Linked DNA regions of Homo sapiens. The protein of the gene in region 2 interacts with the protein of the main gene of each other region in a biochemical or structural test. Each region holds a gene or a part of one and is shown on either strand. Other genes may lie near its edges. The genes, in order: SRPK1 and FBXO15.

Region 1 (3,500 bases), on a different chromosome or scaffold from region 2:
TTTTTTTTTTTTTAATTTAAGAATCCAGGCTAGTTGTTTTATGCCACCTTAGTTTGGATTTGTTTGATTGTTTCCTCATGATTAAATTCAGGTTAACCGTGTTTGTCAAGCATAGTACATGGATTATTGCATTAGAATATGCATTCGAATGCATATTAGTATATTGCATTAGAAGGCACATGGTGTGAATTTGTGCTTATCATTGGTGGTAGTAAGTTTGATCACTTGGTTAAGGCAGTGCCTTCCAGATTTCCCAGTTGTAAAGGTACTTTGTTCTTTTTGTAATTAATAAGCAATCTGTGGAATGATATTTTGACACTGTGACAATCCTTTTTCCCGACAGTCTTTCACATAGTTGTTTTAGTATTCACTGATTCTTACCTGAATCAGTAATAGTATACTATAGTGATTGTAAAAATGGTGATTTTCTATTTCTGTAATCCCTTATGTATTTATTATTTGGCTTTCTTCTCTAAAGAAGATGTTTCTCTTCCTCCTGCCTCCACACTTACTTTCAGATCAGTGTGGACTTGTTCTGTTTTTAATTCATATATTAACTCATAATTTTATCCTTTATAGTGGTCTGGCCGGGCGCAGTGGCTCACGCTTGTAATCCCAGCACTTTGGGAGGCCAAGGCAGGTAGATTATGAGGTCAGGAGTTCAAGACCAGCCTGGCCAATATGGTGAAACCCCATCTGTACTAAAAATACAAAAATTAGCCCAGCGTGGTGGTACACACCTGTAGTGCCGAGAGGCAGAGGTTGCAGTGAGCTGAGATAGTGCCACTGCACTCCAGCCTGGGCAACAGAGCCAAGACTCTGTCTCAAAAAAAAAAAAAAAAAAGAAGTCTCCATGTTGGCTGGTGACATCCTTTTCAAGATGGTTCCTGTTTCTTCCTGACAGGTTCTTTTATTTGTTAGAACAGCAAGGTGTTCCAAGTTTACCCTGTTATTTTTCCTACCTTGGATTTGGCCATTTTTCCAAGGAGCTCAGGCTTTCCTTTAATGGAGAATGTTAAAGTCTGAGCACTAGACCATTACTATATATGTATGTCTTAACTTGCATGTAGAAGCCAGTGGGGGTGGAAGACATCAAGATACTACTAAAATCTCTGTAGTGCCCTGCACAATTTTAGACTCAGAGTATTCCTGCTGTGTGGTGTCATCAGGTTGTTCATACATAAGGACAACACATGGTGGCACTGGAATCAAGATTAGTTTTGTAAAATACAGAGCATTAAGCAAGTTTCCTATTTAAAAAAAAATGTTGGCATTTACGTTTTTGAGGTTTAAGTCTTTCTTGTACATTCATCTCTTCTATAGTTAAGGAATAATTTGTTTTTCCTTGCTTTGAAGCTGTGAGAGTGGGAATTTTTACCCTGGACACCAATTTTGATATTAGGGAAGAAACTAATTTACCTGAAGCTAATCAACAGCTTGAGGCTTGAGCCTACTGCTTTCTTTCACTATTTGCATATGTAGGTTTCACTTTTTCTTTTACCATTGAGTATTTTAATGTACATAATAATATTGATGAAGCCAGCCGCCCACAATTTAATGTTTCATGAATGCTTTCATTGACTATAGCATTAGACTTTGAAATTTTAGAATATTAACAGCTACATATTTATTCATTCAAGCTCTGTAACTTTTTATACTGAAAGAAAATAATACATAACATTTAATAGGGTGGAATTCACAGCTTGTCTTGCCGTGTTCTTCTTTTGTGCCGTTTTTTCCCTCCTTAATGAATTCCTAGATATCTGCATGGTATTTGAAGTTTTGGGGCATCATCTGCTCAAGTGGATCATCAAATCCAATTATCAGGGGCTTCCACTGCCTTGTGTCAAAAAAATTATTCAGCAAGTATGTATCTTGAATCAGCAAGTATCTTAGTCTTGACTATGTAGTGATTTTTTAATATTCTTGAAGTGTCAGGACTTTATTTTTTCCAATAGAATTTTTGTTTTAAGGCCGGGTGTGGTGGCTCATTCCTGTAATCCCAGCACTTTGGGAGGCCGAGGCGGGCAGATCACGAGGTCAGGAGATCAAGACCATCCTGGCTAACATGGTGAAACCTCCTCTCTACTCAAAATACAAAAAGTTAGCCGGGTGTCTTGGCAGGCACCTGTAGTCCCAAGCTACTCGGGAGGCTGAGGCAGGAGAATGGCGTGAACCCAGGAGGCGGAGCTTGCGGTGAGCCGAGATCACACCACTGCACTCCAGCCTGGGCGACAGAGCGAGACTCCGTCTCAAAAAAAAAAAAGAATTTTTGTTTTAAAATTCTTTGTTTTAAAAAGTAAGTTATTGGCTGGGCGCGGTGGCTCACGCCTGTAATCCCAGCACTTTGGGAGGCCGAGGCGGGCAGATCACCTGAGGTCAGGAGCTCGAGACCAGCCTGGCCAACAGTGCGAAACCCCGTCTCTACTAAAAATACAAAAATTAGCCGGGTGTGGTGGTAAGCGCCTATAATCCCAGCTACTCGGCAGGCTGAGGCAGGAGAATCGCTTGAACCCGGGAGGCGGAGGTTGCAGTGAGCTGAGATCGCGCCACCGCGCTCCAGCCTGGGCGACAGAGCAAGACTCCATCTCAAAAAAAAAAAAAAAGTTAATTGCTAAAATTAAATATTTCATTCAACCTTTAGAATTTATTGTGCTTATTCTCTTTTTAAATGTTTTAGCATAACCATTTTCCCCCAGGTTTGCCTCCTATAATAATTAGAAAGGGAAGCTGAGGTTCCTGACTTGGGAACATTGGAGCCCTTATCCAGAAGTTCTGGTTGCAAATAGTAATTTTACATGAATAGATAATTGCTATGTCAGATTATTGCCATCTCTTTATACAGCATGATTCATAGGCATTTTCTAATTTTCTAAAGAGCCTTCAATATACAGTATAGATTTTACCATCAGGAAAATATTAATACTTCAAGGTGCAAAAATTTGTTTGGATTATATGTCCTGGAAAGAGCTCCAAACTGGGCAGCAAGAGACCTCAATTCTTCCTCAGTGAGGAAATTTGAATTAAAGATATCTAAATGTCTGTCAGCACCTACATTACAACACTTAGAGGGTGTGTGTGTGTTGAAGTTTATTCTCAGTCTTTGCATTGTACATAGTTGAAGAATATCTCCAAATAGAATCAGCTTTGTAAAACATTGAAGAATTTTTTATTGTAAATAATTTCTTGCCTTTTTCATAGTTTAATCTTTCTGAGAAAGTTTATTTGTGCTTTTTTAAAAGGTGCTTTTATTCTCTATAGAAAACGCTATCATATCTTTTTTTTTTTTTTAATGTCATGTTATAATCTCTTACTTCTCCAGAAAGCCTGTATTTTGTGTTTGCAAGTCTGCCACTCTATTTCCATTCAGGTGTTACAGGGTCTTGATTATTTACATACCAAGTGCCGTATCATCCACACTGACATTAAACCAGAGAACATCTTATTGTCAGTGAATGAGCAGTACATTCGGAGGCTGGCTGCAGAAGCAACAGAATGGC
Region 2 (4,020 bases):
ACTACAACTGTACTTCAGATTTACCCAGTGTTTTCACCCTGCAAGCCATGACCTATTAATGTATCCTGAAGTAAATTTAGCAGGACACAACTGTTTGTCAAAATAAAATGAAAAAGAACATAGTCGGCATGCATTACATACACTAAGCATAAACGTCATTTCATGAACGCTGCTTTCATTGCACATGAATGTGTGGTCTGTATATGCCCATACCGCAGTGGATATGTAAAAAGGCCTGAAGAGCACTGCCCATGGACCTAGCCCACCCACTAGCCAGCCCTTCCTTCTCCCGCCTCTTCCTTTCCACTTTAGATTTCACTGGCCTTTGCTGGAATAACACTCTTGCCAATGCACATACCTCCCTCACTCCCCTTGCAACACACCTTAGGGCCAGGTCCAGCAAAACCCCAGCCCCAGAGGAGCGCAGTTATTTTCTATCTGTCTGGACCTGAGCACCAAGCACAGCGGGAGGGCTGCACGCAGAGCTGCTGGGTGCCCATGCAGCTGCACCATCCTCAGCTCGGCCTGACGGTCCCACCCTGGCTCTCTGGGTGGCTCCCTCTCCGCCTCATGGAACAACACCTCATCCCCTCCCTCAGCCCTCTGCATCCTGCTAGGAGGGTGATCTCTGCAGAGAACCTCGGCCTTCACAGACAGGGGAGAAGGATGTTTTCCTCAACTTCCCACTGCAGATCCACAGCCCAGCTCCTCTGCGCCCACCTCTCCTCACATGTGTTTCTCATCTGCTCCTCCCGGGTGTGGCCCAGTAACCTCCTGCTGCAGCGTAGCCCATCTTGCAAAGGCATGATGTCCCTCTCAAGTGACTACTTCTGTCCTCCCATCAGCTTTTAGTCTTTAACACATTCAAGTAACTCCCATCTTAGAGAGGCAGAGAGAGGGAAACAGCCTCCCTGGGCCCCGCAGGCCCCTGCTCTTTCCTCGCTTCCCAGACAACCCTCTCCAAAGAGCTGTCTCCGCTGGATTTGTCCATTAATACCCATTCACTCATCAAACCACTCTGGCCTGGTATCCTTTTTCCATCATCTGACCGAACATCTCTTGATAAGGCCACTAAATCCAGTGACCATCTGTCAGTCTGCTTCTCAGCAGTGTTTAGTTTTTCAAGAGAACAGTGAAGAGTAATTCTACCTCTCCAAATGCATCCAGAACCCACAAGCCCTGCAGCTCTCTACCCACTCCCATTGCTGAGGTTCCTACAGCTTGGTCCTAGGCCCTATTTTCACTCTATGTAATCTCTCCCCATAAATGGAACTCATCTACATTCACATCCTAAGTTATCACCAACATGCCTGTGATTCCCAAAAGTTTATCTCCAGGCCGAACTTCTTTTCTAAGTTCAAGACCTAAATATTCAAGTGCGTACTCAACTTCTGGATCTTTCAACGGTCCCTCAAGTCCAGCAGGACTATGCCCAAACTCAGGACCCTCCCAGCAAAGCTCTCCTGGTACTCCTCGTCCCAGGGACTGGTGGAACCATCATCAGTCATCTGGCTGTGCATGCCTGAAATGTGGGCGTCCTTCTAGGGGCCTCCCTCCTAGCCCTGACGAGCCAACCATCACCCAATCCCGTTAGTTCTTACCTCTCTTTCGAATCGCTTTAATTTTGTCCATCTCCATTGCCACTGCCCTAGTCCAAGTGCTATGGTCTGAATGTTTGTGCGTCCCAAAATCCGTGTCTTAAAATCTGATCACCAATGTGACTGTTTAGGCAGTGCGGCCTCTAGGAGGTGATTAGGTCACGGGGGCAGAGCTCTCATGAATAGGACTGAGGTCCTTATAAAAGAGGCCCACAGAGCTGTCTCACTCCTTTTACCAGGTGAGGACACTGCTAGAAGGTGCCTCTAGGAACTAGGAAGAGGGCCCTCACCAGACACCCATCTGCTGGTGCTTTGACCTTGGTGCTTCCAGCCTCCAGAACTGTAAGAAGTAAGTTTCTATTGCTTAAAAGCCACCCAGCTGATGGTGATATGTGATAGCATGCCAAGCAGACTAGGAAACCAAGTGACTGCTCTTCCTTTAAGGAGGCAGCCATCTAACTGATCTCCCCACTCATTCGCCATATTCAGAAGACAAACCTTTACAAAACATGAGTCTGAGCATATCACCCTGAGACAACTTTCCACGGCTCTCAAGAAAGAACCAAATTCCTTCCGGCTACCATTAAGGCCTGACCTGGCCTCATCCGCCCATCCCACCTCATTGCACACATCTTGCCATCTGTGCTCCAGCCACACTGACCCTTCACCCTTGAACACACCATGCCCCCAGCTGACAAAGAGCCACCCAAGCTCCCCTGCTGAGAGATCCTCTTCCCATCTTCTCTTTGTCCATCTCAGCATTCAGTTCGAATACCAGTCCCTTGAGGAAGTTTCCCTGATACTCTCATCTCAACTGACCATGTACCCAATGGGCAGAAACACCAGTGTGTTGAATGCAGAACTTGATACAGCTGCAGTGCTGAAACTGACTCGGCCCGGCCAGTGCAGGTAGAGATGGATGCTAAGCACCAAGAGGGCAGGACTTAGGCCAGCTTGGTTCAGCATCGTGCCCCTGGCCACCTGCATATGCACACAGTCACTGAAGCTCAACCACTATGTGCTGAATGAATGAATGAGTGTGATAAAATGAGAGGGAGGTGGTAAGAGTAGTGATGGAGGTGCTGGTTGTTATTAAACACTAAGGTAGGACAGCAGGAGCCCTAATGCATCAGGGGCAGCAAACACCAGGAAAGAAGAGATGGGTGAAGAAGCAGCCAGCATGAAACACACTAATCCCTGATGGGAGAGTGCACGCCAGAGCCTAAGGCCCCTCACATCAGATGAGCTACACAGTGAGACCACCCAGGAACCCCTCAGACACCTGACCTTGCTCCCTGATGCCTTTCCCAGGCAATCGGCTGCAGTGGTCCTGGAACAGCAGCGACCAGCCCCACACAGCCTGTTCCACAGCACCCACTGCTTCCTGCATGACAGGGACCACCACACACAGAGCCTGGGCTGCGAGGAGGACACCAGAGTGGGGAGCAGGTGGGGAATAAGAAAAAACACCCTACACTGCAGCCTCACTGAGGCTGAGAATGGGGGAGTTGAAGCCAATACTGAGGGCCAGCAGATGGCTCTGTCTTTGGCAGGCAGCCGGAGCCCTCCTGGAATGGGCATTACCACTGTGGCCGTTTTAGAGAGAAGGCTCTGAGGTCTAAGCACCTCTGAGATAACACAGCAGGTGGGACTGCATGGTGCATCCATCTTCCACACCCCACCACCCTGCACGACCTTAGCCACTGGGCTAGCAGTCACTTGACTGTGTTACTTACAACCTCACCAAACCCACCAGCATAGAGATGGTGGTTAGATCCTATGGGAGGAAGGAGGTGGAGCCCTGGGTCCCATCACCTGCGAGAAGGTTGAGGAGGAGAAACCCTGGCAGAAGTCAGGAAGGAGCGGCCGGTGGGGCACAAGGGCTCCTTGGTGAGGACGCTGCTCACAGCCCTAAGCCGTCGGTGGGTGTCTCAGTCTTTCTGCTCTCCCACCTCCTCTGCTGCCAGATCAAGAGCTGGGAGCTGACTCTCCTCTGAAGCCCTCCTAGTTCTCAAAGTCCAGCATTCTCCAATTCCCTCCTAACCTAAAACATGGCCTAGCACACGATAGGCACATCAAACTCTTTAACAACATCCACAGATACACCAAAATCCAAATTCTTTCCTGAGGGTTTCAAGGCCCCCCCCCGACCTGCCCCAGCAGCCTTTCCAATGCCCCCCAGTCACTGTCCCTCCTGTCCCCGGGTGCTAGCCCACCCCAGGCAGGACAGCCAGCTAGGAAGAGGCCCGCCTCAGCACCAGCCGCAGCGGCACAGTGGGTCTCGCACCCCTCCCCGGGCCAGCTGCCCCTCACCTCTAGAAGCTCGCTCCTTATTTCCCATCCTGTCCGAAGCATCTCTTTCTCCACTGGGTTCCTTCTCCAGAATAAATCACTCCCAACCTTCTGGGGGGGGATGCATGTC

The links.
Region 1: of the proteins of FBXO15 (region 2) and SRPK1, one has a biochemical effect on the other in vitro, tested with the Homo sapiens proteins (one large-scale study listed by IntAct).

Annotation. Positions count from the first base shown.
Region 1 is NC_000006.12:35,872,599-35,876,098, reverse strand, and holds part of SRPK1 (SRSF protein kinase 1), read left to right. Parts: intron 1-1,759; coding exon 1,760-1,866; intron 1,867-3,370; coding exon 3,371-3,500. UniProt on the Homo sapiens protein: Serine/arginine-rich protein-specific kinase which specifically phosphorylates its substrates at serine residues located in regions rich in arginine/serine dipeptides, known as RS domains and is involved in the phosphorylation of SR splicing factors and the regulation of splicing.
Region 2 is NC_000018.10:74,074,593-74,078,612, forward strand, and holds part of FBXO15 (F-box only protein 15), read right to left. Parts: intron 1-4,020. UniProt on the Homo sapiens protein: Substrate-recognition component of the SCF (SKP1-CUL1-F-box protein)-type E3 ubiquitin ligase complex.